Linked DNA regions of Homo sapiens: region 2 is linked to region 1. Evidence: fine-mapped expression QTL. A gene starts in region 1. The other region holds a variant in brackets. All regions are shown on one strand. Distances are between the middles of the regions. Region 1 holds the start of OSBPL7 (oxysterol binding protein like 7). Region 2 has its middle 13 kb from the start of SP6.

Evidence for each region. PIP is the estimated chance that this variant, and not a neighbour inherited with it, causes the effect.
Region 2: its variant is fine-mapped to the expression of OSBPL7 in cerebellum (GTEx, PIP 0.99).

What each region holds. Positions count from the first base shown.
Region 1 is chr17:47,817,908-47,825,907 of GRCh38, reverse strand. OSBPL7 (oxysterol binding protein like 7) reads left to right here and starts at 4,114. Exons shown (of 23, transcript NM_145798.3): 1 at 4,114-4,242; 2 at 5,543-5,704; 3 at 5,812-5,937; 4 at 6,126-6,179; 5 at 6,809-6,922; 6 at 7,292-7,402; 7 at 7,522-7,639. The coding sequence starts at 5,630. It overlaps MRPL10 (mitochondrial ribosomal protein L10), which reads left to right. Exons shown (of 5, transcript NM_145255.4): 5 at 1,450-2,636. The coding sequence ends at 1,703. RefSeq lists an enhancer at 3,656-3,825 and a silencer at 3,936-4,151.
Region 2 is chr17:47,855,940-47,871,531 of GRCh38, reverse strand. It overlaps a transcript of SP6 not described here. Among named protein-coding and RNA genes, the nearest start is that of SP6, 13 kb to the right of the region's middle. RefSeq lists a cis regulatory region at 3,981-4,783 and enhancers at 3,664-4,863, 4,509-5,019. The variant T/C (reference allele first, on the strand shown) is at 7,609.

The DNA.
Region 1 (8,000 bases):
TCAGCCTCCCAAAGTGCTGGGGTTACAGGCATGAGCCACCGCTCCTGGTGAATCTGTGATTTTAATACCCCCTCAACACTCCATGATATTTATTCAATTTTTTAATTGTAAAATACACACAAAATTTACCATCTTAACCATTTTAAATGTACAGTTCCGTGTTAAGTACATTCATAATGCTATGCAACATCACCACCATCCATCTCCAGAACGTTTTGTCTTCTAACAGTGAAACTCTACACCCATTAAACAATAGTTCCCCGTTACTTCCCTCCATTCCATGATTCAGGGTCTCACTCCCATTGCCCAGGCTGGAGTGCAGTGGTCCGGTCATGGCTCACAGCAGCCTGGACCTCCTTGGCTTAATCCATCCTCCCACCTTAACTTCCTAAGTAGCTGGGACTACAGGCGCATGCCACCATGTCCAGCTAATTTTTGTATTTTTTGTATTTGTATTCACCATGTTGCCCAGGCTTGTCTTGAACTGCTAGTTTCAAGCAATTATGCCACCTTGGCCTCCTGAAGTGTTGGGATTACAGGCGTTTTCCACTGCACCCAGCCTGATTCTTTGTTTTTTTGAGACGGAGTTTCGCAGTTGTTGCCCAGGCTGGAGTGCAATGGCGTGATCTCAGCTCACTGCAACCTCCGCCTCCCAGGTTTAAGCGATTCTCTTGCCTCAGCCTCCCAAGTAGCTGGGATTACAGGTGCTTGCCACCATGCCTGGCTAATTTTTGTATTTTTAGTAGAAACGGGGTTTCACCATGTTGGCCAGGTTGATCTCAAACTCCTGACCTCAGGTGATCCACCGACCTTGGTCTCCCAAAGTGCTGGGATTACAGGCTTGAGCCACCGTACCCAACCTCATCCTGATTCTTTTTTTTTTTTTTTTTTTTGAGACGAAGTTTTGCTCTTGTCACCCAGGCTGGAGTGCAATGGCACGATCTCAGCTTACTGTAACCTCTACCTCCCGGGTTCAAACGATTCTCCTGCCTCAGCCTCCCGAGTGGCTTGGATTACAGGCGCTCGCCACCATGCCTGGCTAATTTTTGTATTTTTAGTAGAGACGGGGTTTCTCCATGTTGGCCAGGCTGGTCTTGAACTCCTGACCTCAGGTGATCTGCCTGCCTCAGCCTCCCAAAGTGCTGGGATTACAGGCATGAGCCACCACACCTGGCTGCCTGATTCTTATTTACAAGGAAGTTTAGGAAACACTGACTTAATAGGGGTCAGGGCCAGGTGGATATATTAAGAGTTTTCTGAGGGAAGAGTGAAGAAGTAGGGATCGATCCCAAGCAGAGTGGGTGTGGTGTGGGGCACAGTGGAACCCAGGTCCTGGGGAAGGCAGGATTTTGAGAAGGGCAATGGAGAGCAAGTTACTAGGGTCAGAATATTGTTTTCAGAGAAGAAAGGCAATCTGCAAGGAGCCTAACTGACCCTGTGTTCTTCCAGGTGGCTGCATTGATGACACCATCCTCAGCAGGCAGGGCTTTATCAACTACTCCAAGCTCCCCAGCCTGCCCCTGGTGCAGGGGGAGCTTGTAGGAGGCCTCACCTGCCTCACAGCCCAGACCCACTCCCTGCTCCAGCACCAGCCCCTCCAGCTGACCACCCTGTTGGACCAGTACATCAGAGAGCAACGCGAGAAGGATTCTGTCATGTCGGCCAATGGGAAGCCAGATCCTGACACTGTTCCGGACTCGTAGCCAGCCTGTTTAGCCAGCCCTGCGCATAAATACACTCTGCGTTATTGGCTGTGCTCTCCTCAATGGGACATGTGGAAGAACTTGGGGTCGGGGAGTGTGTTTGTCACTTGGTTTTCACTAGTAATGATATTGTCAGGTATAGGGCCACTTGGAGATGCAGAGGATTCCATTTCAGATGTCAGTCACCGGCTTCGTCCTTAGTTTTCCCAACTTGGGACGTGATAGGAGCAAAGTCTCTCCATTCTCCAGGTCCAAGGCAGAGATCCTGAAAAGATAGGGCTATTGTCCCCTGCCTCCTTGGTCACTGCCTCTTGCTGCACGGGCTCCTGAGCCCACCCCCTTGGGGCACAACCTGCCACTGCCACAGTAGCTCAACCAAGCAGTTGTGCTGAGAATGGCACCTGGTGAGAGCCTGCTGTGTGCCAGGCTTTGTGCTGAGTGCTGTACATGTATTAGTTCCTTTACTGCTGACCACATTGTACCCATTTCACAGAGAAGGAGCAGAGAAATTAAGTGGCTTGCTCAAGGTCATGCAGTTAGTAAGTGGCAGAACAGGGACTTGAACCAAGCCCTCTGCTCTGAAGACCGCGTCCTGAATTTCTTCACTAGAGCTTCCTCATCAGGTTACCCAGAAGTGGGTCCCATCCACCATCCAGGTGTGCTTGGATGTTAGTTCTCCACCCTCGAGGTGTACGCTGTGAAAAGTTTGGGAGCACTGCTTTATAATAAAATGAAATATATTCTACTTCCTTTATTTTGTGGTTTACACGGTTGTCCTCCCTCTAAACTTACTCTCAGGGGCTTCTCTGTCATCTGACTTTCCTCACTCTTGCTTCCCTTCCTAGGAAAATCCTCTTCCCCTATACCTGTTCCCACAAATGGCATCCCGCGCATGCTTGCCCTATTAAAGGCAGCTGACAGCTGTACCCACTAGCTAACGTGTCTCTGGTGGTTCTGGACAAAAGGCCTGCGGGAAAACTAGGATTCTCTATTAATGGGGAATTCTGAGAGCTCTAGGGTAGGAGGCCTCATGCAAGTCTTCATGAACCAGAAATTCCTAATAAAGGAGACGGGATGCTTAACTCAGAGTCCACCATCATCCTTGACTGGAGCACATTCTGGGTGGATGCAGGGGTGACCCGGGGAAGGTGGCTGTTCAACATTCCTTCTCGGACTTGAAGCAATGCCACCGCTTCCTTAGTCTTGGACAGGCACTGTCTGGCAGGGATGACCTGCAGCAGCTCTTTTGTGGCCTGGGCCAGGACCAGCTTCCCCCAGTGCCTCATCCTGTGCTGTATGCCCAGGGATGTTCAATCACTGGGAAGTGGCTTAAAAGGCCCTTGAGGCTCCTGGATGCCAGAGCTTGTCTGGTCAGTGCTGCCCAGTGCTCCTGTCCCTCCCAGAACCCTGCCAGGTGCTAACAACACCCTCCTCCTGGGGTGGCTGGAGCAGCACTGAGGCTCTGAATAAAGGCAAGACAGTGGGTGTTCCCGAGAGATATGTGAGACCCTGAAACGTAAACCAAGCTCGGTGAGGATGAAGTGGAAGGGATAAGTGGCCCATGTCACTTTTGGGGTCAGAGAAGAAACTTGAATCACATCCTTCACCTGAGGCCCCACCTACTTCTTTCCAGAAAACTTAGCTGCGCTTGAAACTGTAGGTCTATGCCACATTCATTTGAATGAATTTTAGATCTTTGTTAAGAGCCGATTTTTCATTAGAATTGAGCAGCTGGGCACAGTACTCCAGCAGAAGGGTAAAGGGAAGGGAGGGGACCAGCATTGCAGCCCTTTTAACGGCAGCTGTGACTGCCCCAGGCCTGCTCCTGATCAGAGACTGCAGGCTGTGGGGTGTCTTCATACACACAAGCACTTTCAGATCTCCATGGGGCCTGACCTAGTGGGGCATCACCCCAGTGAAGGGCCTCAGTGTGGGGACTGCTGGCTGTCCCTTTCCTGGCTTGACTGCCCCTGCTGACTGTGCTCTTGGCACTCTCTTATGGTCCCAGAGGGGGCATCTGTCCCTCCACCATCAACCTGATACTTTTGCTGGCTCCAAATTTTGCAGTCTATTTTCAGATGTAAAATGAGAGGCGGGGGGCGGGGGTTAATTAGGAATTGGCCTTGGGTACTAACAGGGTCACTGCCATGCTAGTCTGAATAAATCCTTTATCACCACTGGCGTACAGCCAACAGTTCCCCAGTCCTCTGATCTATCTGGAACCATGCCCAGCAGGGACTGTGCCCCCACTCCCAAGCCACATCGATGCTAGGGCAGTCTGCTCAGCCCTGAGTCCTCCGGGGAGCAGGGGGGCAGAGCTGAGCGGCTGCCCGGAGCTTGGCGGGAGGAGGGGACAGGGGAGAGGGAGGTGGGGAGATCCGGCTAGAGGGGAGGCTCTGACATCTCCTTCCTTCCTGGTTCCTGCAGCAGCTGCTGCCACTGCTCAGCGCGGTGAGGAGGGAGCCGGTGACTCGGAGACGGTGACTCAGAGGCAGAGCGGCGCAAGGGCCAAGGAGTACTGGCGTCCATGGACCCTGGGGTAAGGGGGCTGCGTGGCAGCAGCTGACATTCCTGAGAAGAGCTTCCTCCCACCTGAAGCTGGTGGGTCTGCTCCTGAATAGAGGTGGAGAGGGGGCACCCACCTGGCTCACCTAGACCCTTCACCTGCCTACCGATAGAGCCTCCCCCTCTACCCACAAGCAGTGAGGGGCCAGGATCCCCACAGGGCCGGGAGAAGGGCCCAGAGATACCTGAACACCGGAAGAGTTTGAGAACTTTCAATGGCTGAATGCAGGAGTTTCCTCCCAGGTCAGCCTCTTGCAGCAAGGGTCCCTCTGCCCCAACCTCCTGGGCACCCGTTCCTGCCACATCCCTGTCCCCTCTGGGCCTCAGTTCCTCAGGTGCTTGCTAGCTCCATTAGAAGATCTGGGCTGCTTCCCCCACCTCAAACCAGCCTCGCCCCTCCAGTCCCCTCCCCCGTCTCACACATGCAGAGCCTCATGCATTATTGATCTCCCGGTGGAGCCAGGATGGCCAGGGCCAGTGCCAAGGGTGCCTGTGGGCACTGCTGCAGGACCTGTGCAGACCTGGGCATGTCCTGGGCCCCCTCTTCTCTCATGAAGTATCTCCTTTAGCCCAATGTCCTGCCCTCTCTGGGTGGGTGGCACTTCTCAGAGCCCCAAGGACTGTGAGGGTAGACAGGGGATGGTGAGGCTTTAGGGGGTACTGAGGGTCCAAAAAGGGCATCCTAGGGGCATGTTTGGTGGGAGGAGACATGGGAAAATGGGGGCTATCTCAGGCCTCAGTTTCTCCAAGCACTAGATAATATGGAGATTAATTGGTGGGAGGCTGGGGAGTTTTCTGCAAGATCATGGCAGAGAAGTCTCTGAGCTACGGTGGCAGGGTGGAGGGGTCCTGAAGGCAGAGGCAGCTGGATTGAGGAGGTCTCGCTTGTCCAGTCTCTGAACCCCTCTGTCTCTTCTTGGAGCCTCTTCTGTCACTCCCTTGCTTCACCTCTGAGCACTCCCAGGGAAGCCTCTAAAGAAAGCACTGAATGTTTCTTGGAGCCCCAGAGTATGTGCCCAAGGCGGGGCTGGGCATATGTCTTGTGGTTTTCCCTGGGCACCTGCCCGTCTGCTGTGTGCTAGTTCACTCTCAGGGCAGTGTCCATATCAGGTGAAAATGGGTGGGGTCGGGACAGAGGGGCAGACTTGGGAGAGGCTTGGCAGGTGAGCAGAGGGTATGTTGGGGAGCCCTTATCTCAGAGGGTGTGGGAGGGGCTGGAGGTGGGGAAGGTGATAGCAGAGTTTGCGTTAAGGGGGTCTTTCTCTTGCTTCAAGGACCCCGTCAGGAGCAGGTGACATCCTTCCCCTTCCACCCTGCTCCCTGCTCTACATCCCCAGCAGGGAGTGGCCTCTCCCTTCTCCATGGACTTCCAAGAGAGGGACCCGCCCTTCCTGCCTGAGAGCGCTCAGTCCTCAAAGCCCAGCAGTGCTCAGCAGGTCAGAGAGTGGGAAAGCGGTGGTGGGTGGGCCAAGCTGGAACCAGACAGGGAGGGGCCAAGGCGGACGTCTCACCAGTGCTCCCCTCCCTCTGTCCTGGACTGCAGGCCTCTGAGCTGTGGGAGGTGGTGGAGGAGCCTCGGGTCAGGCTGGGGACAGAGGGTGTCATGCCTGAGAGGCAGGAAGGTCACCTGCTCAAGAAGAGGAAGTGGCCTCTGAAGGGCTGGCACAAGGTAGGGTGGGCAGGCAAAGGGAGGGTCCAGACATGGGGGGCGGGGTGGGAATGGGGGGCAGCTGCTGGGCAGTCCAATGGTGTTTGCATGATGAGAAGGAAAAGAAAAGCTAATTTGTGTGGTTGCCTTCTCCCTCATGCCCTTCCTCTCGGCCTCCCGGGTCCTGTCACTCCTGGGCAACATCACAGAGATACTTTGTGCTCGAGGACGGGATCCTTCATTATGCAACAACCCGGCAAGACGTGAGCCCGGGCAGTGGCTTGGGGTTGTGGGAGGAGTCTGGCCCCAGTATGCCCTGGGCAGGCATGGGGTATCTGGAATCGACCAGAGCAGGGTCTGAATCCCAGGTCCACCACTTGCTGAATGTGTGATCTCGGGCAAGTTACATCCCTGGGCCATAGCTTCCTCACCTCTAATGGGAGAGCACCATCCCCCAGGTGCAGAGCTGTCATGGTAAGGGAGGTCATACGTACAAGGCTCTCTGGACAGGGCAGAATAAGTGCCCAAGAAATGGGGGCTTTACCACCCTCATCCTGGTCCCATTCTCAGGCTGGGAACAAGGAACTGAAGGCCTGGGTACCCAGGATCTCTCTGGGAGGGTGTTGCCTTCCACAACCCTGCAGACCCCTGAGGGTGGGAATAGTTTTTCTTGATCTGTGACTTCTTAGAGACCAAGATGTGACTTGACGTAGGGGAGCGTTCTGCACATGGGAGGATGATTGACAAGTCTCTACTGATAGTGTGACTTGGACATGAGGGTGAACCTGCCACCTGGCCCTTGAGCCTAGAATGGCATCAGGGAGATGGTGGCTCTATGGCTCTGAGAGCCTAAAACAGGTCCCCTCTCCCTCTACCAACACTTCACCCCCAGATCACCAAGGGGAAGCTCCATGGCTCCATCGATGTCCGGCTGTCGGTCATGTCCATCAACAAAAAGGCCCAGCGCATTGACCTTGACACTGAAGACAACATCTACCACCTCAAGGTGACATCCCTGGGAGGCAGGACGTGTGTTGGCCCCCAACCTGACAGAGGCATTGGAACACACAGGGGCAGGGGCTGAGGGTCTGTGGAACTCAGGGTCTGTCTCTGAGTTTGACAAAAAGTAAGTTTCCATCCTGTAAAAACAGCCAAGGGCAAACCTGCACTTCTTGGTTGTTGTATGGACAGGCACAGAGCTAAGGGCTCAGACACCTGGGCGCCTTGCGCTCTGTCTCCCTGCAAGTGAGCCTTGCACAAACCAGGCTCTGTAAGAAGAGACCCTGCTTGTCTGGGGACCAGAGCCCTGACTTCTTGCTCTTGGAAAGTGGTCCCTCTCTTCAGATAGCCCTCCCCCTCTCCATCACTTCTGCAGATCAAATCCCAGGACCTATTCCAGAGCTGGGTGGCGCAGCTGCGTGCCCACCGCCTAGCCCACCGCCTGGACATGCCCCGTGGCTCACTGCCCAGTACTGCTCACCGGAAGGTAAGGTGGACCCTGGGGTGGGGGCAGGTAATGTGGCAATTCAGGGGCAAGGGCTATGGAGAACTGTGAGACCCAGGGAGGTGGGCATCATCCTTCCTGACCCTGGGCTCACCCCACAGGTTCCTGGTGCCCAGCTTCCAACAGCAGCTACTGCCTCAGCCCTACCTGGGCTTGGACCGCGGGAGAAAGTGTCTTCCTGGCTGAGGGACAGTGATGGGCTGGACCGCTGCTCTCATGGTGAGGGGCCCTAGGCGCAGCACCTCCAAGGGTAGGCCCCAAGCTGGCAGGTCTAGGAGGGGAAAATGTTACCTCCATCCCTGCCTCAGGGAGCCCCAGTTTAATGAGACAGCCTCTGCCTCCAAGGAGATCCAGTCTACCTGGGCCCTGTCTAGGGGAGTCCCAGTCTTACAGAGGAGTAAGAGTCTGCCTGGGCACATAGACAGACGTGGATGCAGGGACAGGAGTTGTGACAAAGCAGATACTGAGTGCCCACACAGGGCAGGGGCCTGAGGAGTAGCGCCAGGGAAGGGGTGTGCTCTAGGAAAGGGTTCCTGCAGTAGGGTCTGTGAAGTTGGCCTGGAGGGAGAAGTGTAAACCA
Region 2 (15,592 bases), 42 kb before region 1:
TGGAGAGGTTTTCACTTATCTTAAGTGGAGACGAAAGAAGACCTAGAACAAACAATTATAATCACAGAAAGCAAACTTCTCATTCTTATTAAATCTTGAGTAATTCTTAAGAAAATGGGCCAGTGAGGTTGAATGAAGACTGGACTTGGAGGGAGAAGTGGGGACAGATAGTAAGAGGTATTGGTATGAGCCAAGACTCTTAAGTTATGAACAGACAGTCACATATCACAATGGTTTGCACACAGTAGGTGCTCAATAAATGATGACAGATGCAGGCAGATAGCTGACTCCTCTCTTCTAGGGCCAGAGCTGAAAGCTTAAATGATAGTAATAGGGATATAGGATGGGCTTCTGGAGGAACTTTCCAAGTGTGGGCACCATTCATTCATCCAGTAAACATTTATGGAATGCCTACTGTGTGCCAGACACTGTTCTGGGTGCTTATGATACAATTAGTGAACAAAACAAAAATCCCTGGAATACTCGATCGAGGGTTATGAACTCCACCTGCTAGAAGGAGGGTCAGAAGAGAAGAATCCCTCTTCTCAGCACATTTTAGGGGAGCTAATTAGGGAGGATGAGTTTGGGGGCAGGGAGTATGAATTTTCCAGAAAACTAGGGAAGGTGAACCCCAGACTCTAGGTTATAGAGCCCATCAAACCAGTGGAGAGAAAGTTGCCAGTGGGACATCACTGAGTTCAGCGCAGGAGGAGGTGGATGTTCCTGAAGTCACACAAAACCGGCAGAGTTTCATTCTCTGGCGTGGCTGGGGGTTCTGGGGTGCCAATTAGGAAACCCGGATGTTTAGGATCCCTTCCCAGCTGGATACCCTATGTCAAGGACAAGTACCTCCATGTGTTCATGCTTGGGTGGTGAAGTTCTTTGCAGTGAAAACCCAGCAAGCTTAGGACCCCGTAAACTGATCTGATCTCTCCCTGTCTCCAGACAGGTCAGTCTTTAAATAATCCTGGCTTTTGTTCACCCCCTCCAAGGACTTCTTACCACCCCAGTTATCAGGAAGTCCAGCTCAAAGCCCTCTCCCTCAGTGGCAGGAGGGGAAATCAATGCCTCCTGCCTTTTTCCTGGGTGGAGAGAAAGAAGCAGGGATGTCATTTGATGAGGTGGGGACCAGCAGCTTCTTCACAAACACTCTCCACCCCTCCAAAGCTATCTCTTTTAGACCCTGAAGCAGAGGAGGGAGATGAAAGGGACAGAGCTGACCACGAGAGGTGGAGAGGGTAGGACCCTGACTGGGAACAGATTTCAGGAGCAGATAGTGGGGGTAGGGCAGAGGACAGCAGGGATCCCAGTTATCTCATTGGTTCCCTTGGCATCAAAGCATTCATTGGTTTTTAGCAAAGTGAAATAGGTTAGTGTGTCTGAGGATTGCAGTGGGGATGGGGGTAGGGAATAGGGTGTATCAATGTGTTGGCTCTGCACAGCCTCCTGTCTTTCTTCCCCCTACACACACACAGTCCAGAAATTCTCTGAGAATCTAGCCTCACCAGGGCTTCATTCTGGAGCAAACTCTTTGATCTTCCAACTGAGGAAAGAGACAAATGTGAGAGCCCCTTAAAGGAATCATAAGACAAAGTATTGGCTTGATATGTAAAAATGTTTAATGTAAATGTTTATTGAACTATGAAATGCATATAGAAAAGTGTTATAAATATAGAACATACATAAATCATAAGCACAAAACTGGGTGAATTTTCACAAAATGAACATACCTGGGTAACCAACACTCAGCTCAAGGAACAGAAGGTTACCAACACCCCAAAGCACCCATTATCCCACCTTCAGGTTATTAAACCCCCCAAAAGTAAGGAATCTCTATTCTGACTCCAAAGAGTGTAGATTAGTTTTTCTGGCTGTTTTTGACCTTCAAGTAGGTGAGATCATGCACTGTGTTTACGCCTTTAGAGCCAGCCTCTTTCACTCTGAGTGTCCGTGAGATTCGTCCTTTGCTTGAGTTTGAACCCAACTGCAATAGGAGGGACAGGATGCATCAGGATTATCCCCCTTTGGGTGTCAAACTCAGGCTCTCCTGAGATCCCTGTCAGCCCCCTTTTCAGAGTTTGGTGTTAGCACCCTCAATTTGCTGTACCTCCAGACTCCCCAGATCCCAAACAGGATGAGGACTGGGAGATCCTGCCCTCTTGGTCCTCCTATCCAAGCTAAGATCGCTGGTCCCAGACCACACCCCTCCAAAGGGATTCCAGAGGAAGTCCCCAACCTGGGCGGGGTTAATTAGATGGTGCTTTGAGATCTCAGGATGAAAGGACTGCCTAGGGCCATTGTCCTTGGCCTCCTGTCCAGCTTGGCAGGGGAGGGGAGGCAGTACCCTGTCCCTTCAGGCCCAAAGGATGGGGCATTAGTTTATTGGGAGTGGCACTGCCAGGCTCTGGAGGACTCTGTTCTGAGAAGCTCCTGCTCATAGAAGCAGGGAGCCCAGGGCCAAGATATGGGGGAGTGGGGAGTCAAGGGCTCACGCCCCTGGGGTCTGCCTCCCCGCCTCCTGGGCAGCACTCAGACAGCCCGGCTCTGGTGCCGTGTGTGGTTTCAGGATAAGCTGCCGATGCCACCCAGAGCGCCCTGCTGACAGACAAGGATCTCACCTGCTTTCAAAGACGCCCTTTCATCTGCCAGGGCTAATTACACCTGCAGAGCGGAGAAGAGGGCACTGGAGCCAGCCCCCTCCTTCTTCCCCCATCCCGCTCCCAAGCCCCCTACCTCAGGAACCCTTCTCCTCCCTCCCCTCTGCCTGTTCCAAAGCTCCGTGGCAGCCTCAGCACCTGCCAATTATGGCTTCTCTAGTGACAAGTGGCCCTGGCTCCTTGGAAGGAGGGTGTGTGAGAGCAGAGGGCTTGAAGATGGGTCTATGCGTATGCATGATGGTCGGGGTTAGGAGGGTCTGGCTGGCATTAGGAGGCTACTAGGGAGTAGGTGAGGGCCTCGTGAGTGTGAAAGCTCTGTCCCTTGGTGGAGGTCAGGAGCACTTTGGCTCTGATGTAGGCAGCTCTGGGTTGGCTGCCCACGTATGAAAGTGGGAAGGCTCAGTGCCCCCCACTGGCTGTGTAGGCAAGTGGCTTCCAAGACTTGGGTCGTCCCCATGGTACTTGATGCTTTTTCCTCTTCCAGCACTTCGAGTGCTGCTTTGCAACACTCTGCTCATGTGACTGAGTCTCCCGCCACCTTGTAAACACATGTGTACAGGAGGCACCATGTTGGTCCATCTTTGCACTTCATTATCATAGTATTTGCTCACTGCACACACTTGCCCGAATGGGAGTGGAGAGTGTGTGAGGGACCACTTGGGTGAAGGGGATCCCGGGAGTGTTTGGGGGCCTGTTGGCATGGCGAGGCTCTGTGCTGCAGTGAGTGGGGTGTGCCTGCTCCAGTGGTCACTGTGGGCTGCTGCGGCCACAGTGTATGCCTGCACTGGGGTCTGGATGAACCTCTGGGTAAGTGATGACCTAAGAGGATGTGTGACTGAGTGAGGGCGTGTGTGCATGTGTGTGCGCATGTGCATGCTGGTGGAGGCTCTATGTGTGTGGCTGCATGTCATGCTCTGTTCGGGAGGAACTATATCTCCCTGTGAGGGGTGGTTGGGGGACACACAGGCAGTGTGGCTGTGCTTGAGGATCTGCCAAAGGCTTCCAGTGGGGGTGAGATCTTTAGAAGGGCAGATGAAGTCTTCAGACAGATTCTTCCTTCCCAGGCTCCTCACCTCAAAACTGGGAGAGAAAAAACAGTAAGAGCCCATTTTCTTCCCCAGAATGGGGCAAGCGAGAGGGAGCTACACCATAACCACAGTGCCTTACTCCGCTCCTGGTCCAAAGGAACAGATGAAATGCCAGCAACAGGTTTCCACGGAGGCCCAGGAAGCTGAGTGGGTCCATGGGGGTGGGGGTGGGAGGATCGGAGCCTCCACTGACTGTGTGGCCAAGTGGTGGTCTACCCTTGCACAAGAGGCGTGATTCCACACTTTCTGAGATCATTACGGGTTCTTCACTCAGTCTCTTAATGTTCCTGCCACCAAAAAGCAAATAAGTTTTGGTGTCTAACCCAAGTCCTCTAGAGGTATTTCAGGCCTAGCCAGGGCCCTGCCCTCCCACTGTCAGAATTCTTAGATAGACACGAAGAATTGACAACCAGGACCCTGGATCCTCAAGTCAGGGTCACTGACATGATGGTTTCTCCACTCTCTCTCTAAGCCTCATTGCTTCTCTTCACCCTCCCACATCCCCTCTTCTGACCCCGCCTGTCTCTGGGAAATGTCATTCCCTGAGCTCCTCCTGACAGCAGGTACTTCTGGCATCTAACCGACTTATCTCATGCTCTCAGGCCCTGTTTGGGGACTGGTGCAGGGGGACCCTCACTGGGGCAGCGCGATAAGACGGGGTCTGACGGCCTGGCTGAGGTCATCAGCCGCCGAAGTACGTCAGCGATGGGTGTGTACGTCCCAGCCGGCCGCACAACCTCGCTTTCATCCTTTGTTCCTGCCAGCCCGGCCCATTCCCACCACAGATTCTCAGATTCCCAGCGTGGCGTGTCCGATGAGCAGGAGTCTTCGCCTGGACACGATCCTCTCCTGGCCCTGCCCTCTGCTCACCTCCCCCTCCCTGTCTCCCTCCCAGCCACTTTCAGAGGGGCAGTCGCTTTCCATCTCCCCACTGCCCTCTCCTTGCCAAGCCTCCAATGGCCACCAGAGGAATTGTGATTGGACACAAGGGAGAACATTTGGGGATGTTGCCAAGCGGGAACTTGGCAGGTGGTGGGTCCCTCTTTCCAGAGTGCCGATCAGCGGGTTGGGTGGGAAAGAAACATGCGTGCCTGGGGGAAGATGGGTGGGCAAGGCGATTTCTCCATCTCCCATCAGGCCGCGGATGCGATCCCAGAGCCTTTGTTCACGGTGGCTGTCTGGCTACTCCGGTCCGGCAGCCAATCCCCAAACATTTCTACATTCACCCTGGCTTAAAACTAGGTTTCCACATCACTGGAATGGTTGTTTGTATTTGGCCCTCCCATTTGCCTGCGTCATCTCTGGCAGGGATTTGAACCCTATCTCCTGGCTCCCAGCCCCTTCCCAGGCATCACCATGGCCCCCAACCTGGGCCCATCTTCCTCCTTGTCTCCAGGCAGTCCGTGGCTTGGATTTTCTACTCCATACCCCTCCTCACATCTTCCTTGACCTCATTCTCCAAGAAACCCTCTCAGAGACCCCTCCCTGGCCTTGCCTCCACCTTTCTTCCCTGCCCTCCCTCTCCTCATCCTGATACCCACGTTCTTTCCAGCCAGAGTCTTCCCGTTTCTCTTCTCTTCTGGGTGCTTGTGAATGTCAGGTCTGTATCCCCTCCCACCCCAGTTAGGTGCTCCTCAGGGACAGGAACCTTTATATTTCCCCCAATTCCCAGAAAAGCCATGAGACCAGAGCTTGGAGAAGTGAGGGAGAGGAGGAGGGCAATTATCAGGGGAGATGATGAAAAATTGGTAAGAGCTGAAGCATAAAGATGAAGCATGTCTCCCCTGAGCCCTGGCCTGGTGATCAGTGTAGAGAAGAGAAAGGAAGAGCTATGAACATTTAGTGGGGTAGATGGGGTGGGGAGAGAAAAATTACCCATCATTCCTCTTGTGGGTCTGAAGGGAGGTCCCCTGGAAGTTTTTCAAAGCGAAGACCAGGAGAGGTGAAATGGTATGTTTGGGGCAGCATGGGGGCCTGATGACTGGGGATGGAGGGAACCCACTGCACCAGCTCTTCTTTCTAGACTTTGCCCCTAGGGATAGCAGCAGCATTTGGATGCTGTTTGCTCACTGGAGCAACCCAGTGTCATAAAGGTGCTAACAAAAGTCCCCAGGCACCCTCCGATCCTGGCCTGGAAGAGAACCCACTGGTTCTTATCCTGGATCTGCCATTAATTAATTTGCTGAGTGATCTCTGGCAAGTCTCTTAACTTCTCTGGGCCTCCCTTTCCTGTCCTCACCCCTCAACAGCAGGAACAGGTGCCTGAGGGGGGAGGTGGAGCCTTCCCCAGGGTGGCTTGGAGGCAGGAGGATGGAGGAGGGTTGGACCCTCTCAGAGGCTCTTTCGGTCCTGGTGGTTGGAGCCAAGCGGTACCTTCTTGGACACTTTCCCTGGTCAGTCGGGGAGGTTGACAAGGGGGACACGGCGCCGTTTCACTCCTGAGAGGAGCATGAATCTATCCAAAGCTTCTCTTCCTACTCCCCCTCAGGATGGCTCCCGGAAATCCCTTTTGCACCCTGGGTCCCCTCCCCTAATGTTTCCCCTCCTCCTGCACAAGAGCAAGAGCACACCCTTAGGAAAGAGACTAGCCCAGCACTCCTGATGAGCAATAATTTGTTTTATGACAGAAAAGGAAATTGTCTTCAGTTTCACAAGAGCGAAACGAATTCGTTTGAAGTAGTTTGCCCTGCGGCAGGCAGGAGAAGGTTTCTCTCTAGAGCTTGCTTTCGCTCTCCTTCTCTCCCCCTCTCTCCCTCTCCCCTTCTAATTACTGCAGCTTCCAAGCTGTTGGCATGAGTCGATGCCAGGCTGTCAGATGCCAACTGCCCCAGGATCTCATCTCTTGGGTGTGGATAGGGGGATGGAGCCACAGGAACAAGGTAGGGTGGCTCTCAGTTCAGCCTCTGCCATGCCTGAAGCCTTACCTGGCACCATCAGGTAGAGAGGAGGAGGGCGGGGGCAAAGAGCAGCAAGACAAGACCCAGGAGAGCAATCACGTCCAGGGCACATCCCGGGCCTTGGAAGACCACTGGCACCTTCGGTGCCCAGAGAGGGCCTGTTAGAGGCTGGGGGGCTTTCCTGTAAGAGCTGCCCATATTTCTCGAACAGCCTTCCTTCTTCATTCTCTGTGATTGCAGCCTGGAAGCTGGAAGTCCCTGTGGGCATCTGGGCAAGGAACTGGACCATGACCACCTACTGGTGTCCAGACTCAAAGATTCGGCAGGGTGCCGTGGCTCACACCTGTAATCCCAGCACTTTGGGAGGCCAATATGGGAGGATCACTTGAAGCCAGGAGTTTGAGATCAGCCTGGATAACACAGCGAGACACCCATCTCTACAAAAAAAAAAAATTAAAAATTAGCTGGATGTGGTGGCGCACCTGTAGTCCCAGCTACTTGGAAGGCTGAGTCAGGAGGATTGCTTGAGCCCAGGAGTTAGAGGCTTCTGCAAGCTATGATGGCGCCACTGCACTCCAGCCTGGGAAATAGAGTAAAATCTTGTCTCTTAAACAACAAAAAACAAAAACAAAAACAAAAACAAAAAAAGGAAAAAAGACTCAAAGACTCATTCAGAGGTGGACAGAATGGAATGGAGAGGACAGCACTTGTGGATAATCAATGCTCTCATTAAGAAGTCCAGTGTAGGCCAGGCGTGGTGGCTCACGCCTGTAATCCCAGCACTTTGGGAGGCCAAGGTGAGTGGATCACCTGAGGTCAGGAGTTCGAGACCAGCCTGACCAACATGGTGAAACCCCATCTCTACTAAAAAAAAAAAAAAAAAAAAAAGCCAGGCGCGGTAGCTCATGCCTGTAATCCCAGCACTTTGGGAGGCCGAGGCAGGCTAACATGGTGAAACCCCATCTC[T/C]ACTAAAAATACAAAAAATTAGCCGGGCTTGGTGGTGGGCACCTGTAGTCCCAGCTACTTGGGAGGCTGAGGCAGGAGAATGGCGTGAACCCAGGAGGCGGAGCTTGCAGTGAGCCGAGATCGCGCCACTGCACTCCAGCCTGGGCGACAGAGCGAGACTCCATCTCAAAAAAAAAAAAAAAAAATACAAAATTAGGCGTGGTGGCACATGCCTGTAATCCCAGCTACTTGGGAGGCTGAGGCAAGAGAATTGCTTGGACCCGGGAGGCAGAGGTTGCAGTGAGCGGAGATGGCGCCATTGCACTCCAGCCTGGGCAACAAGAGAGAAACTCTGTCTCAAAAAAAAAAAAAAAAAAGAAGAAGAAGTCCAGTGGACCAGTGGACTGAAAAATCATGGGACCCTCCTATGCCCACTTAAGGGCCCCCTTCCTCCCTCCCTTCCTTCTTTCTTCCCTTCCTTCCTTCATCTATTCGTCCTTCCATTAACTTATTCAACAAACTTACAAAGCACTTATAGAGTCCCAGGCACCATTCCAAGCACTGGGAGTAGTGCAATGAACGAAACCCCCTGCCTCCATGAAGCTTACATTCTAGTGAGGATGTTAGCTTTGGGGGAAGAGGCTGTACCAAGCACATGCCTGGAACAGGGAAGGAGCTTAAAAATATCTGTGGAATGAGTGACTAAATGCCCAGAATGAATCAGAGGTGACACTGCAAATGTTCAGCTGGTGGGTAAAAAAGAATGACTTGCTTAACCCATTCCCTGCCATGCTCCATCCCATCCTCCTTTCCTGCCCAGAGGGCCCTCCTGCTGTGGTCCAAGGGGCAGCTGGCTGTGCAGAGAGCAGGCAGACACCAGGCTCCAGGACTGCCAACCTGGCACCGCTGCTTGGCGCTGGGCGCCCTCTAAAACAACAAACTTCGTGTCTCTAATTTGGCACTTCCTGTTTATCTTTATATTATCTCCTGTCCTTGAAGCTCACAGGCTCAATCAAGGATAATGCAAAGGGCCAGAACTTTGGGGACTCAGAGATGGAAGAGGCAAGGGTGCCCTCTCTGCCAGGGTTCTAGGCTGCGCCCACAGGCACTGAGCAGAGGTCTGAAGTCCAATGCTCCAGGCACTACAGGAGGCTGAGTCTCCTCTGCACCTACACAACAGGAAGTCCCACATGCTGGGTTCTAGTTGTCCCAGGTTCATAGATCAATGCCACTTTTTCCCCTCTACGAATCTTGGTTTTCTGAACACCACAGAATAGGAAGGATTCAGCAGGAGAATCCCCTAGCTTCACTGCTGTCTCTTTCTCATCCGCACATGGCTTGGAATCACTTCTTAATGAATGACTTAACTCCTTTCACAGCCTTTGAGAAATGGATCTAACTCTGGGTGCTTTACCTTTTTTTTTTTTTTTTTTTTTTGAGACAAAGTCTCGCTCTGTGGCCCAGGCTGGAGTGCAGTGTTGCGATCTCAGTTCACTGCAACCTTCACTTCCCAGGTTCAAACGATTCTCGTGCCTCAGCCTCCCAAGTAGCTTGGACTACAGGCGTGTGCCACCACACCCAATTTTTTTTTTTTTTTTTTTGAGACTTAGTCTTGCTCTGTCACCCAGCCTGGAGGGCAGTGGCACGATCTCAGTTCATTGCAACCTCTGCCTCCCAGGTTCAAGCAATTCTTCTGCCTCAGCCTCCCAAGTTGCTGGGATTATAGGCACCCGCCACCAGACCTGGCTAATTTTTGTATTTCATAGAGATGGAGTTTCACCACGTTGGCCAGGCTGGTCTCGAACTCCTGACCTCCGGTGATCCACTCATCTTGGCCTCTCAAACAGCTGGGATTACAGGCATGAGCCACCACCATGCCAGGCTTTTTTTTTTTTTTTCTGAGACAGGGTCTCATTCTGTCTCCCAGGCTGGAATGCAGTGGTGTGATCATAGCTCACTGCAGCCTTGACCTCCTGGGCTCAGGTGATCCTCCTACCTCAGCCTCCCAAGTAGCTGGGACTACAGGCACCCTCACCATGCCCAACTAATTTTTGTACTTTTTGTAGAAATGGGGTCTGGCTATGTTGCCCAAGCTGGTCTTGAATCCCTGGGCTTAAGCAGTCTGCCCACTTTGGCCTCCTAAAGTGCCAGGATTATAGGTGTGAGCCACCGTGGCTGGCTGCCTCAGGTTTTGTTTTTTTTTCCAGACGGAGTCTCACTCTGTCTGAGTGAGACCCAGGCTGGAGTGCAGTGGCATGATCTTGGCTCACTGCAACCTCTGCCTCCTGGGTTCAAGCGATTCTTGTGCCTCAGCTTCCCAAGTAGCTGGGACTACAGGCGCGCACCGCCATGCCTGGCTAATTTTTGTATTTTTGGTAGAGATGGGTTTTCACCATGTTGGCCAGGCTGGTCTCGAACTCCTGACCTCAAGTGATCCACCCACCTCGGCTTCCCAAAGTGCTGGGATTACAGGCATAAGCCACTGCGCCTGGCCTTCAGGTTCTTGAATCCATACTCTAGGCACTTGAAAGATGAAGCTTCCTCTAGACATTGAAGTCCGCCTGGGATCAGCTGACTCTTGGAACCAAGTGAATGTGTCCACTATGCTGGGCATCAAGATGGCTGCCCTGTGGGTGGTAGGATCAGGGCAGATTCCAGACAGGCCCCCACCCCGGCCAGAGGGGCAGCCTCTGCCACCCCCAGAGCTCCAGGTAATAACCTACGGGCCACACCAGGCTCGCCAGCACCTGAGCCACCGGCAGCAGATAATGACGGGGGAGCTGGGCAGTCAGAGCCAACCCCTCAATCAGGAAGCAAATTAAAAAGGGGAGGAATCTCCCAGACAGACCACAACAATGAGACCGGCCCCCTTTCCAGGGCACTGCCCTCCTTCCCCCTACCCGCCTGATTCCGCCTGCCAGGTCCTGATACCCAGCCTCCTCTCTAATTCCCCTCTCGTGGGATCCTGCTGGAGGTTCTCTGGATGACCCTGGCTGCGGGTTGGTGGCCGTGCCCAGCTGACCAGGACACAGGATACTGGGCCTCTTATGGAGCCTTGTCTGCCACCCCTGACCTTGGATTCCTGACAGGGCACTGGGCACAGTGTCAGGGTGAAAGAGGAAGGGTCAGGGCATGTTTTTGATGCAGTGTCTTGAAGGCCATGAGGCCAACTCTCAGTGATGTGACAAAAGGGATTTATTTATTTATTTATTTATTTATTTATTTTAACTTTTTTTTTTTTTTTGTAGAGTCGGAGTCTTACTATGTTGCCCAGGCTGGTTTGCAACTCCTGGCCTCAAGTAATCCTCCCGCCTCCGCCTCCCAAAGTGCTGGGGTTACAGGCATGGGCCATTGCACCCAGCCGACAAGGGGATTTATAGAGAACTCACCAACCTCTGACCTGGCAGCCCCTTGTCCTCTGCAAAGGGTGTAAATTCAATCCAGTGCAACATATATTTATTGCACACTCAGTACTAGTTGCTGTATAAGATGCTGGGGGAGATTCAAAGATGAACAGAAATTTCCAGTCCCTCAAGGAACTCACGATCTTACACATGCACACAGCTAATTGTATTACCCATCAGAGAATATTAAACGCTCTATATTTTAGAACTATGGGAGCACAGAAAAGTACAACTTGAAAAACTGGAGAAGGCTTTAGAGAGCATGGGGACATAGGAGTTGGGATTTAAAAGATCCATAGGAGCTCATCAGGCAGAGAAATGGGGAAGAGCATTTCACACATGGAACAGTGTGGGGCGTGAAAATATGTGGACGGTAAGGATGGAGTAGAAGCCTCCTGGGGAGTGGGAAGGGATGTGGCTGGAAAGGGAGGCTGAGGCCAGATGGGGAATGGGGCTTCAATCCTAGGCCTAAGAGTGTAGATTTTCTCCTGTAGGTAATGGGGGGCTATTGAATGTTTTTGAGCTGAGGCACGACATGACTGGGATCTTTCCACCCTTGTAAGAAGTTTAAATTCCTACCGAGGGACTGAGGGGATTCTGCTTTTTCTGCCTCTGCCTGTCTCCGTGACTGACACCCAGCCAGCCTTTTCTCTCGGCTCCACTTACCGCCCTTGCTCCTTTGCCCCAAACCTCCAATTCCTTGTTCCAAGCAGGGTGACAGGGTGGGGAGCTTCACTCTCCCTCAGCCCTCACTCCAACCCTGCATGTCCCAGATACTCTGTGGGTCCTTCCACTTCCATCACACAACCAGGGCCAGCCAGGGGGACAGTAGGAAGCTGTGTGTGCTTACTTCATGGATCTTTGGGTTTTAAGTTCCCCGACCCAGGCTTCTGCCTTCACTGATGCCCTCCCCAAGCTGAGGAGCTTCTGGAAGCTTGGATTCTGGGGAGCCCTTTCTCTAATTCACTCAGCTGTGGCTTATCCATCCCTTTCTCAAAGAAAGGCTCTGGCCTGAGGACCCTGTGGCATGAAAGGATAGAGTTCTTGCCCTCAAGGATTCAACCAGTAGAGAAGATAAGAAAACAAGCCCATGGAAGCAGAGCATGAGGCAATAAGTGCTGAGGAAGTTCAGAGGAGCATGCCAGTGATGTGCGGATAAGAGAAGCCTTTGCAGAGAAAGCCGCCTATGTGCCAGCCAGGAGCTTGAAGGATAATGTGCTTTCCAGAGGCAAGAATGGCTGGCAGGGGTGGAAATGATTTCGACAAAGGTAGGAAGGCTGGACATGTTTGGTGAACATTAAATCCATTGGGCTGAGCTGGGCTGTAGGGTTTGTATGAGGACCAGCGGGAGAGAAGACTGCGTAGGTGAAGTGGGAGGGTCCTGGATGACACATTTAGCACTGTGGAGCCACTGGATGTGTTGGAGATGGGAAGTGCCAAGATGGAGTGGCACTTTAGGATGATTAGGCCAGGCATCATATCTCACGCCTGTAATCCCAGCCCTTTGGGAGGCTGAGGCAGGTGGATCACCTGAGGCCAGGAGTTCTAGAGGAGACTGGTCAACGTGGTGAAACTCCGTCTCTACCAAAAATACAAAAATTAGCCAGGCATGATGGTGGGTGCCTGTAATCCCGGTTACTTGGGAGGTTGAGGCATGAGAATCACTTGAACCCAGGAGGCTGAGGTTGCAGTGAGCCAAGATGGCGCCACTGCACTCCAGTCTGGGTGATAGAGGGAGACTGTCTCAAAAAAAAAAAAAAAAAAAAAAAAAAAGATGCTTCATCTGTCATTAATTAGGTGCAGGAAAGCTTAGGTTGGTGGGTACAGAAGTGGCATAGGAGACCTGAAAATTAATCGAGACAAGTAGTAATTTTTGTCAGCAAGTTGACACTTCCACAGAATTTCCACAGACCAGTGCCCATTTCCACCTCATTTGTCAATTAAACAAATATTTGTAAGATACTTGCTAAGTACCAGACACCATTTTAGGCTCTTTCTTCATCATCTTCCCCTGCCCTAAGATAAAAAGATGAAGGTAAACTCTCACCTGCACACACTTGGGAGATCTTACTTAGCCCAGCCTCCCCCTTGCAGCCTAAGCGAATCCAGTAGTGTCTGCCTTTGGAGCAGGTATATTGAGAAAAATCAGAGAACTACATGCAGTAAGGATTTGGGGGACAGTGAGGTAAGCAAGCTTAGGGGTGGGAGGAAGAGTAGCTTGGAAAGCAGAAAGCAGTTGGTGGGTGGGAAAAGGGAAGTTGACAGCTGAGTGTAGGGGAGCCCTGGGATCTTTAGGGGAGGGAGGCTGGGCAAGGAGGAGAAAGATGGAAGGAAGAACAGTAGGAGATGGGCCTCTGGGGCTGAGGATGGGGGCCGGAGGGAGGAACAAATTAGAGAGCTGAAGAAGGAAGTAGAGTCTTAGCAGCTAGGGGCGGGAGGAGGAGGTGGGAGACCGAGAGGCGAGGGCAGAGGAAATAGGCCCAGGCACTGGAGACGAAAGTCTGGGAGTCTGAGCCGCTGAGGAGCCACCTGGAAGGTGCAGGCAGCGGCAACATCAAACCTGAGATCCGAGGGCTGGCGCTGGGAGTGAGCTGCTGGAGTTGGGGGAGGTGGCTCGTGTGGGGGCCAGGGGGCGGGTAGGGGAGCTGAGATCAAGAGAGAGGGGCTTGAATTGAATCTACCCTCAGCCCCACTGGGTCTTCAGCTTCCTCAGCCCCCTCCCCTCTTCTGGCTCCAAAGGCCAGAAGCCAGGACTCTGCAGTCCCGCCCCCCACTCCAAGCTACAGGCCGCATGGCACCCACCCATAGCTTTCCCAGCTCCTCTCTCCCGCCCATCACTGGTGTTAGGAAAACACATTGTCTGGAGGTGCGAATAGAGGAGGAAAGGGGGTCTCCTGCCAGGTAGGGTGCTGGCTGTGTTCATTGCTGTCCAGGCAGGGTCTAAACACACCCCTGACTGATCCAGAGGCCAGGGGAAGGTGTGTGGGCCTGAAGGTCCAGGTTGAGGGCTGGGTCTTTTTCCTCTCCCAAACTCCCCCCCAACCCCAAGATTCTCCCATCTTTTGGACTGGACCTGCTACCTAAGCATATGGAACCGATTGAAAGAATTTGTATGCTCACCTTATAATTTATGCAAATCAACTCTGTAATTAACTATAATTTGGAGGCATCCTTTGGTATTTGAGACATTTATCCATGAGGAAATGCCCTAGTGATAATGCTCCCGTATTAACATTATTTACTCCACCTGTGTGGTCTCCTCAGCTTGTTTCCCCTCCCCACTCTGATTTTCTGTGCTGGAAGGTGGGGAGGGACAGGGAAGCCCCTCCCTGGAGCCTGCCTCAGTCCTGATGCCTGGGTTCCCCCAGGGGGTTGTGCTGGCCCTGTCCTCCCAATTTTGCCTAAGATTGAAGAAAGAGGTCCAGCTCTGCCTCCTAAGCCCTCTAATACTCTATTCTCTCCTGCTTGATGGGTGGCTTTCTGCTGAGCTTTTACCTCTTCAGGGCCTCAGTGTTCTCATCTCTGAAATGGGGAGAGGAAGGACCTGTCAGGGCCTTTATGGGATAATTGCTGAAAAGTTAATGAAGAGACTGGGAATCCCCAGTCTAGAGGTTGCTGAGGGTATAGGGGAGGAGCAGGAGAAGAGTTTTGGGTAAAGACTCCCTGGCTCATCCTGGGAGGGAGGTAGCATGTAAGTCTTGGGGTACTGGGTTCTGGTGTGTGTAGAGGGGGTACAACTGCTCCTGTCCTCTGCCAAGGGCATTGGGCTGTGGTCAAAAACAGGATGTCATCCCGTGAAAAGTCCCCAGGCCACTCTCCTATGTGGGTCAGAGTTCACAGCTTCAGTGAGCTTTGGGAAACAAGTCTTACTCTTCTGTTTCATCTCCGTTCTCCTTCCTGGTCTTTTGTCCATCTCTGCCCTGGGACATGTTTGTGTTAGCCAGTATACCTAAACTTACAACCACCCTAAAATTAGGCTCATATAAATAGAGATCTGGGGGCTCCCCCTAAATTCACCTTCAGGCCCCTTCTCCCTTTTCCAGGCCACCTTCCTACCCTCTTCACCCTCCTGGAGTTCCAGGAGTCCTGAACTGTCTGTAGCAGTTCTTGGCTGGACTCTGCCTCTGGTCTTTCTGGTCTTAGGTGACCTCTTGTCCATCCTAAGCTTCCCCACTCCATCCAAAGTCAGGGAAAAGGTCCTCCCTTCCCATTTGACAATGAGAGATCCCAGGTCCAAAAGATAGATTACACTGGGTCCTCTTGGGGGATCCAAGTTGGGAAGTGAGTATGTAAAAAGAGGATGAAAAGGGAGCGAGAGAAATTGTGGCTCAGAGAGGCCAACAACACTGACATGAAGCTCTGCAAGGAGGAACTGACTTGAAGACGTGTGGTGTGTGTGTGTTTGTTGGGGGCATGAGCCCTTCAGGTCTCAAAAATGGAACTTCTTTCTCTCTTACCAAGTCCATGGAGGAAAACTCAGGAAGAGGGGATGGAATTTGGAGAGTTCCAGCTATCCCAGCTCTCCACCCTAGCAATGCTGTCATTTCCTCCATCCTGCAAGAACCACTTTGTCCCTCTCCCACTGCCCAGCCAACTCTGCG